4 linked regions of the Homo sapiens genome follow. The protein of the gene in region 1 interacts with the protein of each later gene in a pairwise test. Each region holds a gene or a part of one and is shown in the gene's direction. Other genes may lie near its edges.

The links.
Region 2: the proteins of PRPF18 (region 1) and RINT1 interact in binary tests that used the Homo sapiens proteins (3 or more experiments, as listed by UniProt).
Region 3: the proteins of PRPF18 (region 1) and BICD2 interact in binary tests that used the Homo sapiens proteins (3 or more experiments, as listed by UniProt).
Region 4: the proteins of PRPF18 (region 1) and TSNAX interact in a two-hybrid assay, tested with the Homo sapiens proteins (one large-scale study listed by BioGRID and IntAct).

The regions. Positions count from the first base shown.
Region 1 is NC_000010.11:13,603,366-13,608,342, forward strand, and holds part of PRPF18 (pre-mRNA-splicing factor 18), read left to right. Parts: intron 1-2,265; coding exon 2,266-2,379; intron 2,380-4,977.
Region 2 is NC_000007.14:105,538,130-105,543,106, forward strand, and holds part of RINT1 (RAD50-interacting protein 1), read left to right. Parts: intron 1-3,597; exon of another isoform or gene 3,598-3,726; intron 3,727-4,278; coding exon 4,279-4,520; intron 4,521-4,977. UniProt on the Homo sapiens protein: Involved in regulation of membrane traffic between the Golgi and the endoplasmic reticulum (ER); the function is proposed to depend on its association in the NRZ complex which is believed to play a role in SNARE assembly at the ER.
Region 3 is NC_000009.12:92,757,428-92,762,404, reverse strand, and holds part of BICD2 (protein bicaudal D homolog 2), read left to right. Parts: intron 1-4,977. UniProt on the Homo sapiens protein: Acts as an adapter protein linking the dynein motor complex to various cargos and converts dynein from a non-processive to a highly processive motor in the presence of dynactin.
Region 4 is NC_000001.11:231,534,598-231,539,574, forward strand, and holds part of TSNAX (translin-associated protein X), read left to right. Parts: intron 1-2,615; coding exon 2,616-2,730; intron 2,731-4,977.

The DNA.
Region 1 (4,977 bases):
TGCACTAAAAGAAATTTCGAAGTCAGGTAGTTTATTACCTTGCCTTTAGACAGAACCACTGTTATATAATTCCAGGTAGATGAGAGTTAGCTATTTAAACTGATAACCAGAAAAATATTATGCACTCCTCACAACTTGGCCTAAGTTATAGCACCCAATCTTAAGCAGTGTTTTACAGTAATAACTAGCTCACATTCCCTTTCTTTTTTCTGTCGAGGTTGTTTTTGTCTTTGACTGACTGACTTAGGGTCATCTTTCATCTTTGAGTCCTCAGTAGTCTCTTCCTGTTCGACCTCTGTAGTTGTGGATAGGACTGAATGTAAGTCATAGAAATAAAGCGTCTAGATCAAAGGCTTATGTATTCTGTACTTCTCGCAAGTTGACATGTTTGTAGTATTATTATTTAGTTCTACATTACCACATGTTTATGACGGACATTGCATAAAAGGAAATTTTCAGGGGAATGGTGACTGACTCTAGAAACCATCATATGAAGATGAGGTGAAGGAATTTAGAATAGTGAGGCTGGAGAGAAGAATTACTAGAGATATCTTTAAAAATCCAATGAAAGTAGCTCTGATTTTGGAAAATCAGAATATTCTCTGTAGTTTCATAAAGTGGAACTGGGATAAATGGGTAGAAGTTTGGGGGAAGTAGATTTCAGTTTTGAGAAGCAAAACATCTCTGTCTAAACAATGGGATGGGATGTTTCACGAAGAAATGTGATTCCTGCCATTTGTCAGCCAGGGATCTGACAAGGGTGTTTGTGAGGTCATTTCTGCATTGATTGGAGATAGCACTAGATGACCTCTTAAATTTCTGTTTTAATCTCAAACTTCTGTTAATCCACTGGGAGCCCTCTCAATGGATTTTAGGTGTGATGCTATTTATGCTCCCAGGTAAAGCTCTTGGTGTTTCTCATTATTGCTTTATTTAAAAAATTTGGACTAGTATTTATTACGTTTTCTGTTTCTTTCTTCCTTTTTAAAATGACATACATAGCATGTATATAAAGTGTATGAACCATGTTAGGGCAATATATGTTTGTTACACATATATGAATAATTATAAAATAAATATTCATGTAACCATCACCCAAGTTTGGAAATAGATTTTCAGCATCTTAAAAGCTCTGCATATGCAGATTATAACTCCCTGTTTTCTGAGGGAGAAGTTTTTGGTTTCATGGTGGTATTACAATGCAGACTGTCCATTATGGTAATTATCAGCTGGCTTCAGATTTGATTTTCCTTCTCTCTATAAATGCTGTCATTCCCTCCCATCTTAGTGTTTTTCCTGTGTGTCCTGCCACACAGATTGGTCCTATCGAAGCAGTGAGCTAAACGACCTAAACTTTATGGTTACTTAAGGTGTGATGGTAACACAGTATATCTGTTTATGGAAAATTAAAAGAATAAACAGATTACTTTTTTCATCTACATTTCAAAACAAGTGTTTGATCACCAAAAATATGCTGACATAAGGGATTACTATTGTCTTTCCATTGTTTTTAAAAGAAGACTAAGAACAGTTATAATTATGTAAAATGAGGGCCACAGACATGCCCCTTTTCTTACAAAAAAGAATTTTTTAAAAATCTCACAGTAAAAGAGGTGGTTTATATTAGGGTCTTTCTTTAGACTTGAATTGTAGAGTCATAGGTCAGACCACTTTCTAGGAGCTGTTCAGTGATAAAATTAATAACAGTGACTTTTGAGTCAAAATAGATTTTTAAAGTACTTGATTTTCTCTTTGATTTGGAAACATCTTTGTTTAGCTTAATTGAAATGATCTAAAATATTTGAAGGATTTTATACTTTACACAGAGGCATGTATTTGGATAATTAGCTTTTATTAAACCCAGGCTTGGCTTTTAAGGTACAATATACAAATTGTTTTTGAGATGTTTAGTTTTTTCCTCTCTCAAAAGTTTAATAGCTGGGCACATTAGCTCACGCCTGTAATCCCAGCACTTTGGGAGCCCGAGGCAGGCGGATCACAAGGGCAGGAGACTGAGACCATCCTGGCCAACATGGTGAAACCCCATCTCTACTAAAAATACAAAAGTTAGCTGGGTGTGGTGGCGGGCGCCTGTAGTCCCAGCTACTCGGGAGGCTGAGGCAGGAGAATCGCTTGAACCTGGGAGGCGGAGCTTGCAGTGAGCCGAGATCGCACCACTGCACTCCAGCCTGGGCAACAGAGTGAGACTGTCTCAAAAAAAAAAAAAAAAAAAAAAATTTACTGGGTATCTGTTTCACTTTGTAGGTCATCAGAAGATTGAGAGAAAGAGGAGAACCAATCAGACTATTTGGAGAGACTGATTATGATGCTTTTCAACGTTTAAGGAAAATAGAGATCCTCACACCAGAAGTTAACAAGGTAAGAGGACAGAACAAAGCTAGAAAAATACCACTGTACTGCATTCACTAGAATAGAGTTTGACTAATTGCATTATTGTAGGCAACAATGGAAAAGTAAAGTGAGCAGATTATTGCTGCTGAATGGAAGTTTTCATTAATTTTTTGAAAAGCTCATATCTTAAGTATAACATTTAATGCATTTTGACAAATACATACAAGCATATAACCATTGCCCTTATAAAGAAATAGAACATTTTCGTCACCAAAGAAATTTCCCTGAGAGCATCAGGAAGAATAGCGAATGGATGCTGGGCTCAATAGCTGGGTGATGGGATGATCTGTGAAGTAAACCACCACGACACACGTTTCCCTATGTAACAAACCTGTCATCCTGCAGCTGTATCCCTGAACTTAAAAGTTGAAAAAAAAGAGAAAAAGGAAATTTCCCCAGTACCCCTTCTCAGCCTATCCTCATATTTCTCCTCATCCCTTCCTGGGCAGCCACCATTTGAATTTTGTCATCATGGATTAATTTTGCTTGTTCTTGTATTTCATACAGATGGACTCATAGATTGTGTGTCTGGCTTCTTTCGCTCAGCATATCAGTTTTTAGGTTCATCCATGTTATTGCAGATACCACTGGTTTCCTTTTCATTTTCCAGTGATACTCAGTTGTATGAATATATCAAAATTTGTTTCCAGCTTTGGGCTATTAGGAATAAAACTGCTGGCTGGGCGTGGTGGCACAAGCCTGTAATCCCAGCACTTTGGGAGGCTGAGGCAGGTGGATCACAAGGTGAAGAGATCGAGACCATCCTGGCCAACATGGTGAAACCCCGTCTCTACTAAAAATACAAAAATTAGCTGGGCGTAGTGGCGTGTGCCTGTATTCCCAGCTACTTGGGAGGCTGAGGCAAGAGAATCACTTGAATCCGGGAGGTGGAGGTTGCAGTGAGCTGAGATTGTGCCACTGCACTCCAGCCTGGCGACAGAGTGAGACTCCTTCTCAAAAAAAAAAAAAAAAAAAAAAAAACAGGGATAAAACTGCTATGACCATTCTTATGCAGATCTTTTTTTGGAACTATGTTATTTTTCTTGGGTAAATAAATAGGTCTCTTGGGGAGATACCTAGAAGTAGAATTGCTGGATAATAAGAGTAGATGTATGCTTAACTTCATAAGAAATGCCAGTCATTTCCAAACCCCAGCATGTGGTATTGTTAGTCTTTTTAATTTTAACCATTCTCTTTTGTGTCTGGTAGTAGCTCTTTGCGGCTTTAATCACATTACCTGATGACTAAAGATGAGGAGCATCTTTTCATAAAGTTGTGTTCATTTGTGTAGTGTCTGTTAAAGTCTTTCTTTCCTTATTTATTTATTTTTTTGACACAGAGTCTCACTCCGTCACCTACGCTGGAATGCGGTGGCATAATCATGGCTCATGGCAGCTGCAACCTCCTGGGCTTAAGCAGTCCTCCCACCTCAGCCTCTCAAGTAGCTGGGATTACAGGCGCTTTTTGTTCATTTTAAAAATAAACTTGTCTTTTTGTAAATGGATTATAGGAATTCTTTGTATATTCTGGATAGAAGTTCTTTGTCAGATATACGAATATTTTTTGTGACTATTTTCTTGTAGTTTAGGGCTTACCTGTTCTCTTAATTGAATCTTTTGCTGAACAGAAGTTTGTGTGTGTGTACACACACGCTTTTTGAGACAGGGTCTCACTCTCACCCAGGCTGGAGTTCAGCATGATCATGGCTAACTGCAACCTCTAGCTCCTGGGCTTAAGCGATCTCCCACCTCAGCCTTCCAAGTAGCTGAGACCACAGGTGTGTGCCACCATGCCTGGCTGATTTTTTAATTTTTGTAGAGATGAGGCCTCCTCATGTTGCCCAGGCTGATCTTGAACTCCTCTACTCAAGGGATCCTCCCGCCTTGGCCTCCCGAAGTGCCCGGGCCAGAAGTTTTATATTTTAATGAAGTCCAATTTATTGTTTTTTCCTTTTATGGTCATTGCTTTTTGTGTCCTGCTTAAGAAATCTTTGCCTATCCCAAGATTTCAAATATATATTCTTAATTTTCTTCTAGAAGCTTAATATTATAGTTTTTGCTTTACATTTAAGGCTCTGATCTTGTTTTATGGCTTAGCATATGGTTTATTCCATGGGCTCTTGAAAAGAGTATTGTTTTGCTTTCATGGTACAGTTCTACAAATGTCAGTGATGATAGTGTTGTTCAGATCTTCTTTGGCCTTGCTAACTTTTTATCTACTTGCTTTCTCAATTATTGAGAGACAGGTGTGGTTACCTATGACTATGTAACAGACTACTCCAAAACTTACTAGTGTTTGTTTATTTATTATAAAGGATTTATCATTACCAAATCTGTTTTTGGTGATTAACAAGCCACCCTGAAACTTGATAGCTTAAGATAATTTGTTATTGTCTTAATAATTACCAGTTCTGTGGTTTTATTGGGCTGGATTGAGCAGTATCTTGCTTGGGGTCTTTATTGTGATTGCAGTCAGATGAAGGCTGCGGCCGAAATCATGTGAGGCTGCCTCTGGACTGGTCTTCTAAGCTGATATCTTGCCCCTTTCCTGGCGTCTCAGTTGGAA
Region 2 (4,977 bases), on another chromosome or scaffold:
CTACAGGCACGCGACACCACGCCCAGCTAATTTTGGTATTTTTAGTAGAGACAGGGTTTCACCACTTGGGCCAAGATGGTTTCGATTCCTTGACCTCGTGATCCGCCTGCCTTGGCCTCCCAAAATGCTAGGGTTACAGGCATGAGCCACCACACCCGGCCAAGATAAAACATTTTTATCATATAGCTACTAAATTAGGTTAAGTAAATTCTGTGTGGGTTATTTCCAGGTTTTTGGTCATCGTATATTCTCCTGTCCCCATTACCTTAGGCCTCCACACCTTCCTGTCTTCCCACCACAACTACTGCTAGTCTTCAAGTTTAGCCTGGCTTTGTCTGCCTTTTCACTCCTGCAGGCAGGTTGTTGTGGGCCCAGTTGGAGGAAGTCATGCAGCTGAGTAGATTGATGCCAATCTATGTGTGTGGTCTGCCACCCTGGCTGAGTCTTCAGCCCCACCAGCAGTCCTTCCATGGGAACGTCAGCTCCTCTGCTACTCCCCTCAACTGTTCTTTCAGATTCTGTTTGAGACATCTACCCAACCTGTCCATTCTGCCCTTTCCTTTTCCCTAGCAGAAAAAAATAGAAGCCTAGCATGAATTTAGTAGCATTGAATTCAGTCTGTTGAATAGTCTATCCCACAATCGACAAATTTATGTGCAGTCATTTTTAACCTCTTCATTCAGCAAAGGATCAGTCGAAGGCAGACCTTATACCCCAGGTTCTCTCTGCCACCTCAGTAAACTTGTGTCACTCTTATAATTTTACCCTGTGTTCGTCAACCAGTCCTATCCCTTCAGCATGTGCACATAGACAGGTCTTTTCCATAAAACCTTAACAAAGAAACAAAAAAACCCATGATCTTTTAGCAGGTATTAGTTCTTTCCTTTGATTGTCAGGCTTCAGAAAGTAACCTTTGTTATCTATCTCTACTTTTTGTCATTCATCTTTTACCCACTGTAATCAGGTTTGTTTCCCTAATGACCACAGAAACTTTTACTGAAGTTCCTTATTGAACCTTAAATTCAGCATGTCCAAAACTATACTGATCCATTTTTTAGAGGCTTGTCTGTCTTGGTTAGATAATGGCACCACTATTTGCCTGTCACCCAGACCTGAAGCCTAGGAGTCCTAGATTCCTTCTTATCATCCTCTCATCCTCTATCCCATCACCAAGTCATCTGAGTTCAGCCTCAACATCTCTGGTATCCATCCCATCTTTCCCACTCTTTTTTTTTTTTTTTTTTTTTTGAGTTGGAGTTTCACTCTTGTTGCCCAGGCTGGAGTGCAATGGCACAATCTTGGCTCACTGCAACCTCCACCTCCTGGGTTCGAGTGATTCTCCCGCCTCAGGCTCCCAAGTAGCTGGGATTATAGGCATGTGCCACCACGCTCGGCTAATTTTGTATTTTTGGTAGAGATGGGGTTTCTCCATGTTGGTCAGGTTGGTCTCAAACTCCCAACCTCAGGTGATCTGCCCGAAAGTGGATCTTGGCCTTCCAAAGTGCTGGGATTACAGGCGTGAGTCACTGCTCCCGGCCCATCTTTCCCACTCTTGCTGATACCATGTTAGTTTAGGCAGATTGGGAGCTTTGTAGAAATGCAGAATCTCAGTCTTACTTCAGACTTACTGTATCAGAATCTGTATTACAACAAGATCTTTAGGTGATTAATGTGCCCATTCATTAAATATAGCCTGTCTATTTTATTGCATTAATCCCACTGTTGAAATTATTTGCTTACAACACTCTTATATACCAAAGTGACCTGAAGGACGGATGCTGTGTCTTGTTTATCTGCATATTTCTAGCGCAGTGCCTGGTACAGAATAAGTATCTAATCACTGTTGATTGAAATTATTCTATAATGTTCTTTGTATTTTGCTGATGACTAATATTTGTATATGTTTTCCCACATACTATAAGAAAAATTCACTTAATAAATGCCATTTTCTTTTTTTTTTTTTTTTTGAGATGGAGTCTTCCTCTGTCGCCCAGGCTGGAGTGTGGTGGTGTGATCTCAGCTCACTGCTACCTCTGCCTTCCGGGTTTCAAGTGATTCTCCTGCCTCAGCCTCCTGAATAGCTGGGATTACAGGCATGCGCCACCATCCTCAGCTCATTTTTGTATTTGTATTTATTTTATTTTATTTTTTGAGACAGAGTCTCACTCTGTCGCCCAGGCTGGAGTGCAGTGGAGCGATCTCAGCTCACTGTAACCTCCGCCTCCTGGTTTCACCAATTCTCCTGCCTCAGCCTCTTGAGTAGCTGGGATTACAGGCTCATACTACCACACCCGGCTAGTTTTTGTATTTTTATTAGAGACGGGGTTTCACCATGTTGGCAAGTGTGGTCTCAAACTCCTTACCTCAAGTGATCCACCAGCTTCTGCCTCCCAAAGTGCTAGGATTACAGGCATGAGACACTGTGCCCGGCTGAATTTTTGTATTTTTAGTAGAGACAGGGTTTCACCATGTTGGCTAGGCTGGTCTCGAACTCCTGACCTCCAGTGACCTGCCCTCCTTGGCCTCCCAAAGTGCTGGGATTACAGGTGTGAGCCACTGCACCTGGCCACTAAATGCCCTTTCTAAAGGCATTGCCTGGATATCATCTCATCAAGTCAGTGCTTCTTAGCCTGGCCTTAATTCAGAATCACCTGGGGTATGTTGGCAAAATATAGATGCTCAGCCTGTTAGAATGAGATCTTTGTTTCCTTTTTTTTTTTTTTTTTGATATGGAGTCTCGCTCTGTCACCCAGGCTAGATGGCAGTGGCGCAGTCTCGGCCCACTGCAACCTCTGCCTCCCGGGTTTAAGAAATTCTCTGCCTCAGCCTCCCAAAGTGCTGGGATTACAGGTATGTGCCACCATGCTCAGCTAATTTTTTTGTATTTTTTAGTAGAGACAAGATTTTGCCATCTTGGCCAGGCTGGTCTTGAACTCCTGACCTTGTGATCCACCCACCTTGGCCTCCCAAAGTGCTGGGATTACAGGTGTGAGTCACCGCACCCAGCTTGCATTTTTTTTTTTCTTCTTTGAGGAGTCTTGCTCTGTCACCCAGGCTGGATGGAGTGCGGTGGTGCAGTCTCAGCTCACTGCAACCTCCTCCCGGTTCAAGTGATTCTTGCCTTGGCCTCTCTAGAGCTGGGATTACAAGGTGTGTGCCACCAAACCTGGCTAGTTTTTGTATTTTTAGTAGAGATGGGGTTTCATCATGTTGGCCAGGCTGGTCTTGAACTCCTGACCTCAAATGATCCGCCTGTCTTGGCCTCCCAAACTGCTGGGATTACAGGTGTGAGCCACCGTGCCCGGCCCTTCCTTTGCTTTGAAGGAAAATATTTAGCAGGTAGAGCATGTATTAATAAGTTTTCTCGGCCTGGCACGGTGGCTTATGCCTGTAATCCCAGCACTCTGGGAGGCTGGGGTGGGCGGATCATGAGGTCAGGAGTTCGAGATCAGCCTGACCAACGTGGTGAAACCCCGTCTCTACTAAAAATACAAAAATTAGCCGAGCGTGATGGCACGTGTCTATAATTCCTGCTATTTAGGAGGCTGAGGCAGGAGAATCACTTGACCCCGGGAGGTGGAGGTTGCAGTGAGCTGAGATCACGCCACTGCACTCCAGCCTGGGTGACAGAACGAAACTCTGTCTCAAAAAAATAAAATAAGTTTTCTCTAGCTGGATCCTCTGCTGAGCCTATGGAGGCAGACCTCTAGATGCTTACTGGAGCCAGTGAGTTAAGTCCCTTTCTCTACATGTATGTGTATATGTATGTATGCATATATTTTTTATTTTATTTTTATTTTTTTGTTTCACTTATTGTTTTCAACACAAAGGCATACTTCTTCCTGCTATTTGTGTGTATATAAAACAGCATGTTATGTTTGGATTGATTAGTACAGGATGAAGAAATCAAACCTTTTTTTGAAGGTTTTGATGGATGATTTTCAGTTCTGTTACAAAAAATGTGTATTTTGAAGGGAACGAACTAATAAAAAAGGTTACATACAGCCTGGGCAACATAGTGAGACCTTATTTCTATTTAAAGAAAAAAAAAAAAGAAAAGCCAGGTGTAGTGGTGCATATGTGTAGTCCCAACTACTGGGGAGGTTGAGGTGGGAGGATTGGTTGAGCCCAGGAAGTCCAGGCTGCAGTGAGCTATGATGGTACCACTGCACTCCAGCCTGGGCAACAGCGTGAGATCCCCTCTCAAAAAAAAAATTATGAAAATTTTATCTGATTGCTGCTGTTCTTTCTTTCTTTCTTTTTTAAAATTATGGTCAGGTACTTACAATTTCATCAGAAATTCCTAAAAGAATTCGAAGTGCCTTAAAAAATGCAGAAGAATCAAAGCAATTTCTTAATCAGTTTCTGGAGCAGGAAACTCATCTCTTCAGCGCCATTAACAGCCATTTGCTGACTGCGCAACCTTGGATGGACGATCTTGGAACCATGATTAGCCAGATTGAAGAGATCGAACGTCATCTTGCTTACCTTAAATGGATTTCACAAATTGAAGAACTAAGGTAAAATGGGCCTCTTTGTTCTCACAATTACTATTTTCCTTTGAGGCTTCTGTCTTAGAGAGTACATGTGTGCCATTAAATAATTGAGTTAATTAAAGATTATAATAATATAATTTTACCAGTTGTTGTGAAAATAGCATTATGATAATGATTCTTTTCCTTTATTGTGAGTGAACATAAGCTTTTCAGGGAGCTTAATTAGCATTTGAAAGAAGGTAATGTAAGTACGTTAAACTTTTAAGTTTTTTTTTTTTGAGATGGAGTCTCGCTCTGTCGCCCAGCTGGAGTGCAGTGGTGCCATCTCGGCTCACTGCAAGCTACACCTCCCGGGTTCATGCCATTCTCCTGCCTCAGCCTCCCGAGTAGCTGGGACTACAGGCGCCCGCCACCATGCCTGGCTAATTTTTTTTTTTGGTATTTTTAGTAGAGACGGGGTTTCACCATGTTAGCCAGGATG
Region 3 (4,977 bases), on another chromosome or scaffold:
ATGTGCATCAGCGTTTCAGTTTCAGTAGATGTTGCCAGAAAGTTTGTACCAGTTCACCCCCCATCAACAGCATGCGTGTTCCTCACACCCATGCCAACACAGGCTCTTGCTAACCTATTTAATTATGGCCAGTATTATAGTTGAAAATATTAACTCTTCATTTAAAAAAAACCACAAGATTTAAGGAGTCAATAATTGTGGGGTTTTTTTTCTCCTGTAGAGCGGTGTACCGCCTTAATTCTTTAGAAAACTTTATTTCTTGAACTAAAGTGCATTTAGTTACTAATAAATTGTGCTCCAAATGGAGTTGCTTGTACTTCTGCCCTGCATTTGTAGATAATAGGATCGTTGAGGGAAGGACGCTGGCCTGCTGGTCCCAGTGTGTGGGTTTCTGATCAGAGCTGAGGAGGGTCTTGTGGTGATGAATGGGAGACAGTGCCAGTCCTGTTGCCTTTCTCATGGGATGGGGGAAGTGTCTGTGTCCTGCTGACAACATAGCACGGTGCTGGCTGAGACCACAAGTGAGGTGGGTGCCCCCTGGTTGATTTTGCCTAATCATTCTGCTAGTGATTTCTTGAGCCTGACTCAGTTAAGACCATATCTGTCCCCGTTCCCACTGTGCCCTTTCCCTTCCTCTCCCTGGAATGGTGGGGAAGAGAATTAGATGGGCTTTGGTCAGCAACCTGGTGTTCCTGGTCCTGCGTGGCCGTGAGACACTTTGTTCTGTGTTCTTAGCTGTAGCTTTAAGAGGACAGGTGTGCTGAGGTGGCAGCTCCTGCCTTCAGGGCACAGGCAGGGACTGTAGCTAGGTGGGCTAAGGCTAGGTGCCCATGTGGTCCTCATGGTCAGGGGAGGGTAATGGGGGAGGTCTGAGAACAGTCTTGACTCCACCTGAGCTCAGGCTCAGAGAGGAGGTCTGGACACCCTCACTGCCTTGGTGTGCCACCTTGGTGTCATAGTGTCAAGCTCTGGAGCACCATTGTCCTTGTCTGAGAGGTGCACGTGGGTGGAATTGGGTGTTGGACTGGGCACAGCACCCAACACGCAGCAAGTGCTTCGTAGGTCTTCTGCGGACTGAATCTCATGCCTCACTCAGGTCTCTGTCTCCTTGCTGCTGCACCTGCAGCTTCTCCCCGTTCTTATCCTTGTCCCTGCTCAGTCTCAAGTGGCTTCCATTGCCACCTCCCAAGGGCTGCCCTAAGCATTGTCTCAGGCCCCTACAGCCTGGCTTGGGACTGCCCTACCTCTCCTGTGCCCACATTCACCCTTTGTCTTAGAAGTCCCACCTGCCCTTCAAGCTTGGGTGTCTCTAAAATTCCCCTGCCTGCTGCCTTCTGGACTTGCTGAGCCCTGTTCCCAGCACCTGGGCAGCTGCAGGAAGTGGGGGCAATAGGGTGATTGGCAGAGGACCCTCCAGGAGGTTCCTCTGCAGAGTTACTGGGGGTGAGGCCCAGCCTCTTTGATTGTTTGCTTCCAGAGCAGGAAAAGTCCTGGTCTTGGTTAAAGCAAGTGTGGGATTCTCCCATTCGTCTGATAACCCCTGAGAACATTGTTGTGTCCATTTCTGAACAGAAGGCTGTTGGGAGCAAGGAGGCTCTGGGAGACCCAAGGGCCTTTCAGGGGGCTGGGTGGTGGCAGTGGTCTGCTGTTGGTATGAGGAAGCCTGGCTTGGGTGGGAGCTGGGGCCCTGTGAATACCTGAAGCACAGATGGGTCTGACAGTTGGGGAGAGGCAGCTATAGGCATCCAAAGATGATGACCATGTGGCTACACTGTTGTCACTAATTGTTGGGCAATTCTCTCCCCGCTGGGCCTCTCTTTCCCCACTTTTAGAATATGGGGCAGGGGGTCATGAAGGAATCTTTAGGGACCCTTACACTTTTAAAAATGTCTGAAACTCCCACATCGAGCCCTGGTGCTGTTTCTTCCTGTAGGGCCTGGCGACTGGGCACTTGTGTATCTCAATCATCCTGGGACCTGGCCAGGGAATCTGCCCAGCCCTAGGCATGCGGATGGTGTGCTCCAGGCCAGCCCTGCCAGCATGTGGAGGCGTGGACCTGGCCACCCTCCATGGGATTCAAGGCAGGCACAGCTGTGATGGAGCAGCTCGTCTTTGGGGATGCCAAGCGAGCATGCTTTGTGGCTTAGCAGGTGGATCCAGAGGAAGGCCAGGCCCAGTGCTGGGAGCCCCTGGGCCCCTGGGGGTGCCTGGCACCACCTGAGCAGGACCGACTGTATATGATGTCTGTCCCTGTGAACTCCATACTGACTCCACAGGGGGAGTCTGGGCCCTGCCTGGTCTCCCAGGAGCTTGCGGCCCTGGATGAGCCGCTGCCTGTCTGGGCCGTGATAGGTTAATGATGATGCCTGTTACCTTGGCCCAGTGCTCTGTGAGCCCCCAAGGTCAGGGAGTGGTGTCCCTGTGCCCTTGTGTCTGAGCATCCGGCCCAGGTCCATATAGGATTCCTGCTAGGTCTCCCCTGTCACTTAGGGACCACAGTCCCTTCCTTTGAGGGAGGAGATCAGTTTCTTCTTTGTCAGTTTTGGGCATCCCCCAGTCAGTCAGACCTGCTTCCCCACATAGGTGGACCAGATGAAACTGTTACACACATCGGGGGTAAGAAAGATTTGGTTTCTTCTCAGACAGTACACCAGCTGTTTGAGGTGGTGGTGGCTGGTGGCCAGGGCTGGCCAGGACTATGCAGGCTTTGACAGGTAAAGCATTGGCCTTAGACCCTGTGTTGTCCAGTGTTCAGAGTGTGGCCTCTGAAGCCGAACTCTGGAGCAGGAGAGGGCCCAATGTGGCTGCCTAGCTGCCTCCTTGGGCTCAAACCCTGCTGTCCCAAGCTGGGCTCTGCTCTGCTGTGGGAGGTGGATGGAGAGATGGGGACTGAGTGGCAGGCAGGCTCCCCTTGCCACCCTCAGAGCATTGCAGGCCAGGGTTAGGGTTAGGAGGAGGTCACTGGGGGCCCAGCTTCTTTTTTAGAAGCTACTGTGTTTTAAAAAATCATACATTCACTTTAAGAACAGCAGAAAGTGGAGAGAACAGTGTCAATAGGACCTGTGTAGATGGCGCAGGACAAATGTGGGGAGCACTGGGTGTTTCTCTCTGCCAGCTCTTCTTCCCTTGTGAGTGTGTGATGTGTACAAGACACCATCAAACACAGGGGAAAGGCTTTGTGCATCTGTAATAGTTGTTTTTTGTTAAAGTTAGTTTGTTGCTACTCTGAGATACATAAAAGCAGGTTTAATTCAAGTAGATAAAGACAGGAAGGTTTCTGTGGATCCAGAGGTTCTGTGGTACTTCTAACTTATACTGTTGTGTTACTATATGAAATAATTGTCATGGTTTGCTTTTTATAGTTGGCTTTTTACTTTTTAATTTATTATTATTATTATTTATTTATTTTGGTAGAGTCAGGGTCTCACTGTGTTGCCCAGGCTGCTCTTGAACTCCTGGGCTTGAGCGATCCTCCCGCCTTGGCCTGCAAAGTGTTGGGATTAGAGATGTGAGCTACCACGCCTGATCTATAGTTTGCTTTTTTTTTTTTGAGACGGAGTTTCGCTTTTGTTGCCCAGGCTGGAGTGCAATGGCGCGATCTTGGCTCACCACAACCTCCGCCTCCCAGGTTCCAGCGATTCTCCTGCCTCAGCCTCCCTAGTAGCTGGGATTATAGGCATGTGCCACCATGCCCGGCTAATTTTTTTTGTATTTTTAGTAGAGATGGGGTTTCTCCATGTTGGTCAGGCTGGTCTCGAACTCCTGACCTCAGGTGATCCGCCTGCCTTGGCCTCCCAAAGTGCTGGGATTACAGGCATGAGCCACCACGCCCAGCCTTTTTTTTTTTTTTTTTGAGACGGAGTCTTGTTATGTTGCCCAGGCTGGAGTACAGTAGCTCGATCTTGGCTCACTGTAACCTCTGCTTCCCGAGTTCAAGTGATTCTCATGCCTCAGCCTCCTGAGTAGCTGGGATTACAGGTGCGCGCCACCACACCTGGCTAATTTTTGTATTTTTAGTAGAGACGAGGTTTCTCCATGTTAGCCAGGCTGGTCTCGAACTCCTGACCTCGGGTGATCTGCCTGCCTCAGCCTCCCAAAGTGCTGGGATTACAGGCGTGAGCCACTGCGCCTGGCTGCTTTACTCATTATTTACTTATTTATTTATTTATTCATATTATTATTATTATTATTATTATTATTTGAGACAGAGTCTAGCTCTGTTGCCCAGCGTGGAGTGCAGTGGCACGATCTCGACTCACTGCAAACTCTGCCTTCCAGGTTCAAGCAATTCTCCTGCCTCAGCCTCCCGAGTAGCTGGGATTACAGGAGCCCACCACCACGCCCGGCTAATTTTTGTATTTTTAGTAGAGATGAGGTTTCACCATGTTGGTCAGACTGGTCTCAAACTGTTGACCTCAGATGATCCACTCGCCTCAGCCTCCCAAAGTGCTGGGATTACAGGCGTGAGCCACCGCGCCCAGCCTTTACTCATTTTTTAAAGCCACCTTCTTTGTTGGATGTTTCCACATAATCAAAGGTGGAGAGAGTAATAGAGTGAGTCCATGTATGCTCCTGCCCTGCACCTGCAGTTTGCAGCTGTGGCCGGTCTTGTTTCTACCGCAGTTCATCCTGTGTAGCTGTGTCTGTAAGTATATCAGTTGTTTTGCTAAGAAAATAGAATCTTTTCTTTTTTTTTTTGAGATGGAGTCTCACTCTGTCACCCAGGCTGGAGTACAATGGCGCGATCTCGGCTTACTGCAAGCTCCGCCTCCTGGGTTCACACCATTCTCCTGCCTCAGCTCCCCCCCGCCCCCCCGCAGTAGCTGGGACTATAGGCGCCTGCCACCATGCCCAGCTAATAGAAAATAGAATCTTTTCTTACAAAACTTAACCATTGTTGAACTTTCACACCTAAGAAACTAACAAAAATTCTTTAGTGTCATCTGTTGTCCAGTCAGTGTTTGGATTTCCCCAGTT
Region 4 (4,977 bases), on another chromosome or scaffold:
ATAGCAGCAAAATAATAAGACATTATTCCATGTTAGGGGCAGTGCTTATTGGGCACATGGATTTGCAGTTCCTTTTCAACAATTTCTTAGTTCCCAGGAGATTGCATACCCTTAGTACGTTTATCTCAAACTACAACAGATGCTCTTATCCAGTATGTTATACTGCTTATGATTTCAACAAGCAGTTCAGTCAGGAAATGTTTTGTGAACACCTGCTGCTAGACATGGATCTATGCTCTGATACAGTGGTGAAACAAGTGCATTTACAAATAAATAATATAATTTTAGCTAGCGAAGGATAAATGTAAATCAGTGAAGCGTGGTAAGGAATGGAGAGTAAGGGAGGAGGGAGGCACGTGATTCTTAAGCAGTCCTTGAGCAGAATGATATCTGAATGATGAAAGTGAAATGTGAGATGATGAGAGGCAGTAGCAAAAATAGAGGCATCAAGAAAGGTACAAGCTTAGAGAATCAGGACTAGCAAGAAGACATAGTCTGCCTGGCTCATGAGCTAAGGGCAGGACATGAGGCAGTTTAATGTGTTAGAGGCATGAATTTACTATGAAAAGATTCTAGATTCTGCGGGTTATTTTTCCCATAGGTAATGTAATCTTTATGTAGACTCCCAGTTGTTGTACTGTTTTATTAAATGTTAGGTATATACAACGTTCTGTAAGTATAGCTTTGTGTTCTGGAAAAGGTAAACAGTCTTTCTTCAGTTAAATTTATTTAATACCTTTTGCTCTAAGTATATTCACAAAACTTTAGATGTAGTCTTTTAAACAATAATACAAAGTAATTATTTTGTTAACTGTTAAGAATTTTAGTAAGGAAAAAATTTTGAGGCTGAAACATCTGATAGTGGTATAATGAAAGCTTGTTCTTTAAAAAAACTTAAAACACTGTTTTTGTTTGGCAGTCTCAAGTTAGGCTTTCCGTAAAAAGTTTACCAAGGTAAAATTCTTTGAGTCTCAATATTCGAGACTAAAACAAATTAAGCAGAGTAGATGAAACTTAAGTTAGCATAAAAGGTAAGCAGATTGGCAGTTATATGTAATAGATAGAAACAAAAGTATTCCATTCAGCATTAAGTGCTGATCGAATACAGGTAAGGAGAAAACAGTAACTATAAGGAATCAAAGTGCTGACATTTAAGGAGACAAATGTATGAAAATTTTCCTGAAGGCAAGACATGTTAGAATTGTGAAAATGCTTTGTTCTGTAAGGAAAAGGATGTATGAAAGTGGGGAGGAAATCTTTTCTTAATGTAATATTATGTTATGGGAGATTTGTGTCCGTAACAATTTGACAGGTTGAAGATTAATTCTATGTGGAAGTGTTGAGTCTTCGAAGATAGTATGTAAGAATTGGACACCACAGCCTGCGTTCAGCCTTTCATCGATCTCAGGAACTCTTCTTCATTTTCTCCTACTTTCAGTTCTCTTCCTAGATTTCTAACATCCTGACTAACTCAATTTTCAGCTGACTTTTTTCCAGCCTAATTAAATTTTGATGTTTCTTACTGATCATTTTCAGATGAACTCTGCCACAGCTTTCTATTGATTGCAGAACTACTTTATGATCTAGTTCTCTAGTTATAACAAAACTAACTCATGTAGTGATTGTCTATTTTCAGTCATTTTTCCTTTTTTCTTCTTTACTAATCTTTCTGAAAATAATATTTCTGAAGTATATTATGCTTATGTATGCAATATTACTACATGGTAAAACAGTAAATTTGAGATTATGTACTTTCTAAAATAAACGGGCTAACTAGATTTTTACTTAGTATTTAAATGTGATATAATTTGGTAGCTTTTTAAAAAATTAAGATACAATACACATACTGTGGCACTCACTTTTAAGAAGTTGTTTCATGTTCATTTTAATATACACGTGCTACCTTACTACAATTGACAGATTTTTAGAAAATCTTCAAGGATTCAGGAATTTGTGAGCTGCTGTGCGTTGTTGGCATTTACAGAAATTATTAGATATTTAGTTTTAAAGGTTTAGAAATCTGGGAACATTAACTGGACCTCTTGAGCTACTTTAGCGCTGTTAGTGATGTATACCTAGGATATTTGACAATTAACACTAGAGTCAGTAGATGCTAGAGATTGTTTATAATCACCTTTTTGTGTTTTGAGAATTAGTGTCATTACCATCGTGTTCTACTTCTGAATGAAGTCAGGTGACTGCAGTCATTGTCTGCATTTACATTGTGACATCTTTTTTTTTTTTTCTTTTTTTTGAGACGGAGTCTCGCTCTGTCACCAGGCTGGAGTGCAGTGACTTGATCTCGACTCACTGCAACCTCTGCCTCCGGGGTTCAAGCGATTCTTCTGCCTCAGCCTCCCGAGTAGCTGGGACTACAGGCACATGCCACCATGCCCAGCTAATTGTTTTATTTTTAGTAGAGACGGGGTTTCACCGTCTAGGCCAGGATGGTCTTGATCTCTTGACCTCATGATCCACCTACCGTGGCCTCCCAAAGTGCTGAGATTACAGGCGTGAGCCACCGCACCCAGCATATGTGACGTACATCTTAAAAATATTGTTTGGTAGGCTTTGAGTATAGAATATACATGCTTATGATCATAATGTGTTTTTAGCATTTCAGCAGGAACTTGATGCAAGGCATGACAAATATGAGAGACTTGTGAAACTTAGTCGGGATATAACTGTTGAAAGTAAAAGGACAATTTTTCTCCTCCATAGGATTACAAGGTGAGTAAGCATCTTTAGAATTTATTACAGTTTGATACTAGCTATTAGAATATTCTGTGACTTTGTGAGGATTAGAAGACATCAGCAGTAGGTACAACTTAAGAGTTAATATTTTAATAAAAATAGGTCTCAGCTGGGTGTGGTGGCGCATGCCTGTAATCTCAGCACTTTGGGAGGCCAAGGCGGGCAGATCACTTGAGCTCAGGAGGTCGAGACCAGCCTGGGCAACATGGTGAAACCCTGTCTCTACTAAAAATACAAAAATTAGGTGGGATTGGTGGTGCATGCCTATCATCCCGGCTACTTGGGAGGCTGAGGTGGGAGGCTTGCTTGAGCCTGGGAGGCAGAGGCTGCAGTGTGCCAAGATCCCACCACCGCACTCTAGCCTGGGCGACTAAGCCAGACCCTGTCTCAAAAAAAAAAAAAAAAAAGGAAAAGTCTGTAGGGGTTGGGTGGACTTAAGAAAGAAAAATTCAGAGCAGCTAGGGATTTTGTGTTAAGATTATTCATTAAGATATAGCTATTGTCTGTGAAAATATATGATATATTTTGATTGTTAGAGCCTGTTACATTAAACTTTATTTGGATGATATGCGTGAAAATTTTAATATTAGATAAATGTTAAAATCTGCATAACCTATTTTCTCGTTCATTTTTGAACTCATGGCAGTCTGGCTTTCTGCCTCACAATTATTGAAATGCCCTTGTTACCTTCATATTATTAAGTCTCTGTTTTCTTATTTTACATTTTTGTAGCATATGATACTGTTGACTACTTAATTCTTTTTCGAAAGTTCCTGTTTCAGTTTTGTGACTTTTGTTTACATTTTTTTCTCTAGGACTTTACTATTTTATTTTTCTACGCAGGCTTTGTATATTTGATAGACTTCGTGATTGCAAGTAAAAGAAACTAACTTAAACTAGTCTAAGCAGAACGGGGAAATTAATTATAAAAAAAGCCACTATCAACTAGCAGATTTCTTATTTTATGCACTATTTTCTATTACAGTTGTAATCATATTATTCATACAGTTTTGACTAGTAAACTGAGAAAATAGCAGACTTCAGAAAAATTAGAACTTCCCAAGATTCAGCACTATCTTATGAGCAGCTGAGGATCTCCATCTTCCATCTTTGCTTCTTTGTTTGCTTCATAATTCATTTGACCTGATTCCTTTGCCTGTTTCACGAGAGGTAGAATAGTATCTACCCTACAACTCCCCAGCTTACGTGTTTTAGTCCAGCTTCTGAAGACGGATTGTTGTTACAAATTCCAGATGTCTCCAGAAGGGTAGCTGTGATTGGTTTTATACTATATGTCACAGAAAGAATGTAGGGAAGATCACATATAATTTATTAGCTTTTCGTTATTGAAGATATTATTGCCCGGGCATGGTGGCTCACACCTGTATGGGCAACATGGCAAAACCCCATCTCTACAAAAAATACAAAAAACTAGCTGGAGATGGTGGTATGCAAGTGTAGTCCCAGCTGCTCAGGAGACTGAGGCAGGAGGATTGATTGAGCCCAGGTGGTCAAGGCTGCAGTGAGCCATGATTGTGCCACTGTACCCCAGCCTGGGCGACAGAATGAGACCCTGTCTCAAAAAAAAAAAAAAAAAAGATACTGAAGTATTCCGTTCAGTAACATGAAACTTTTAAGATAATTCTCACATTTTAATTTTTACTTCATTAAATGGAATCTAATTTGCCATACATAGATTTATTGAAATATGGCACTGTTAACATTTTCTTTTTCTTACCTGACTGTGTAAAATTAGTTTTTGCTTGTTTTCTCATATCATTCTTAGATAGCTTGTACATAATAAGGCTTGTATTATCGAAAGAAGCAATACTGTTCTTATTAATTATGGACACTTTTTTTTAGTACTTATTACAATTCTAAAACAATTGCCATCAGTATTCAGCAGTAATATAAATAACAAAAGCAATAATATAAAGAAAAACATACAGATTGAGTATCCTAAATGCTTGGGACTGGAAGTGTTTTGGATTTCGGATTTTGGAATACTTGCAGATAATGTATGGGTTGAGCATCCCTTATCTGGAAATCTGAAATCTGAAGTGCTCTTGTGAGCATTTCCTTAGAGTGTCTTGTTGCTAAGAAAGTTTTGGATTTTGGAGCATTTTGGATTTCGGATTTTCAGATTAGGGATGCTCAACCTGTAATAGGAATATGACAGGAGACCTTAATATTTTAGAAAAATCTGCGTTACTGTGTGAAGTC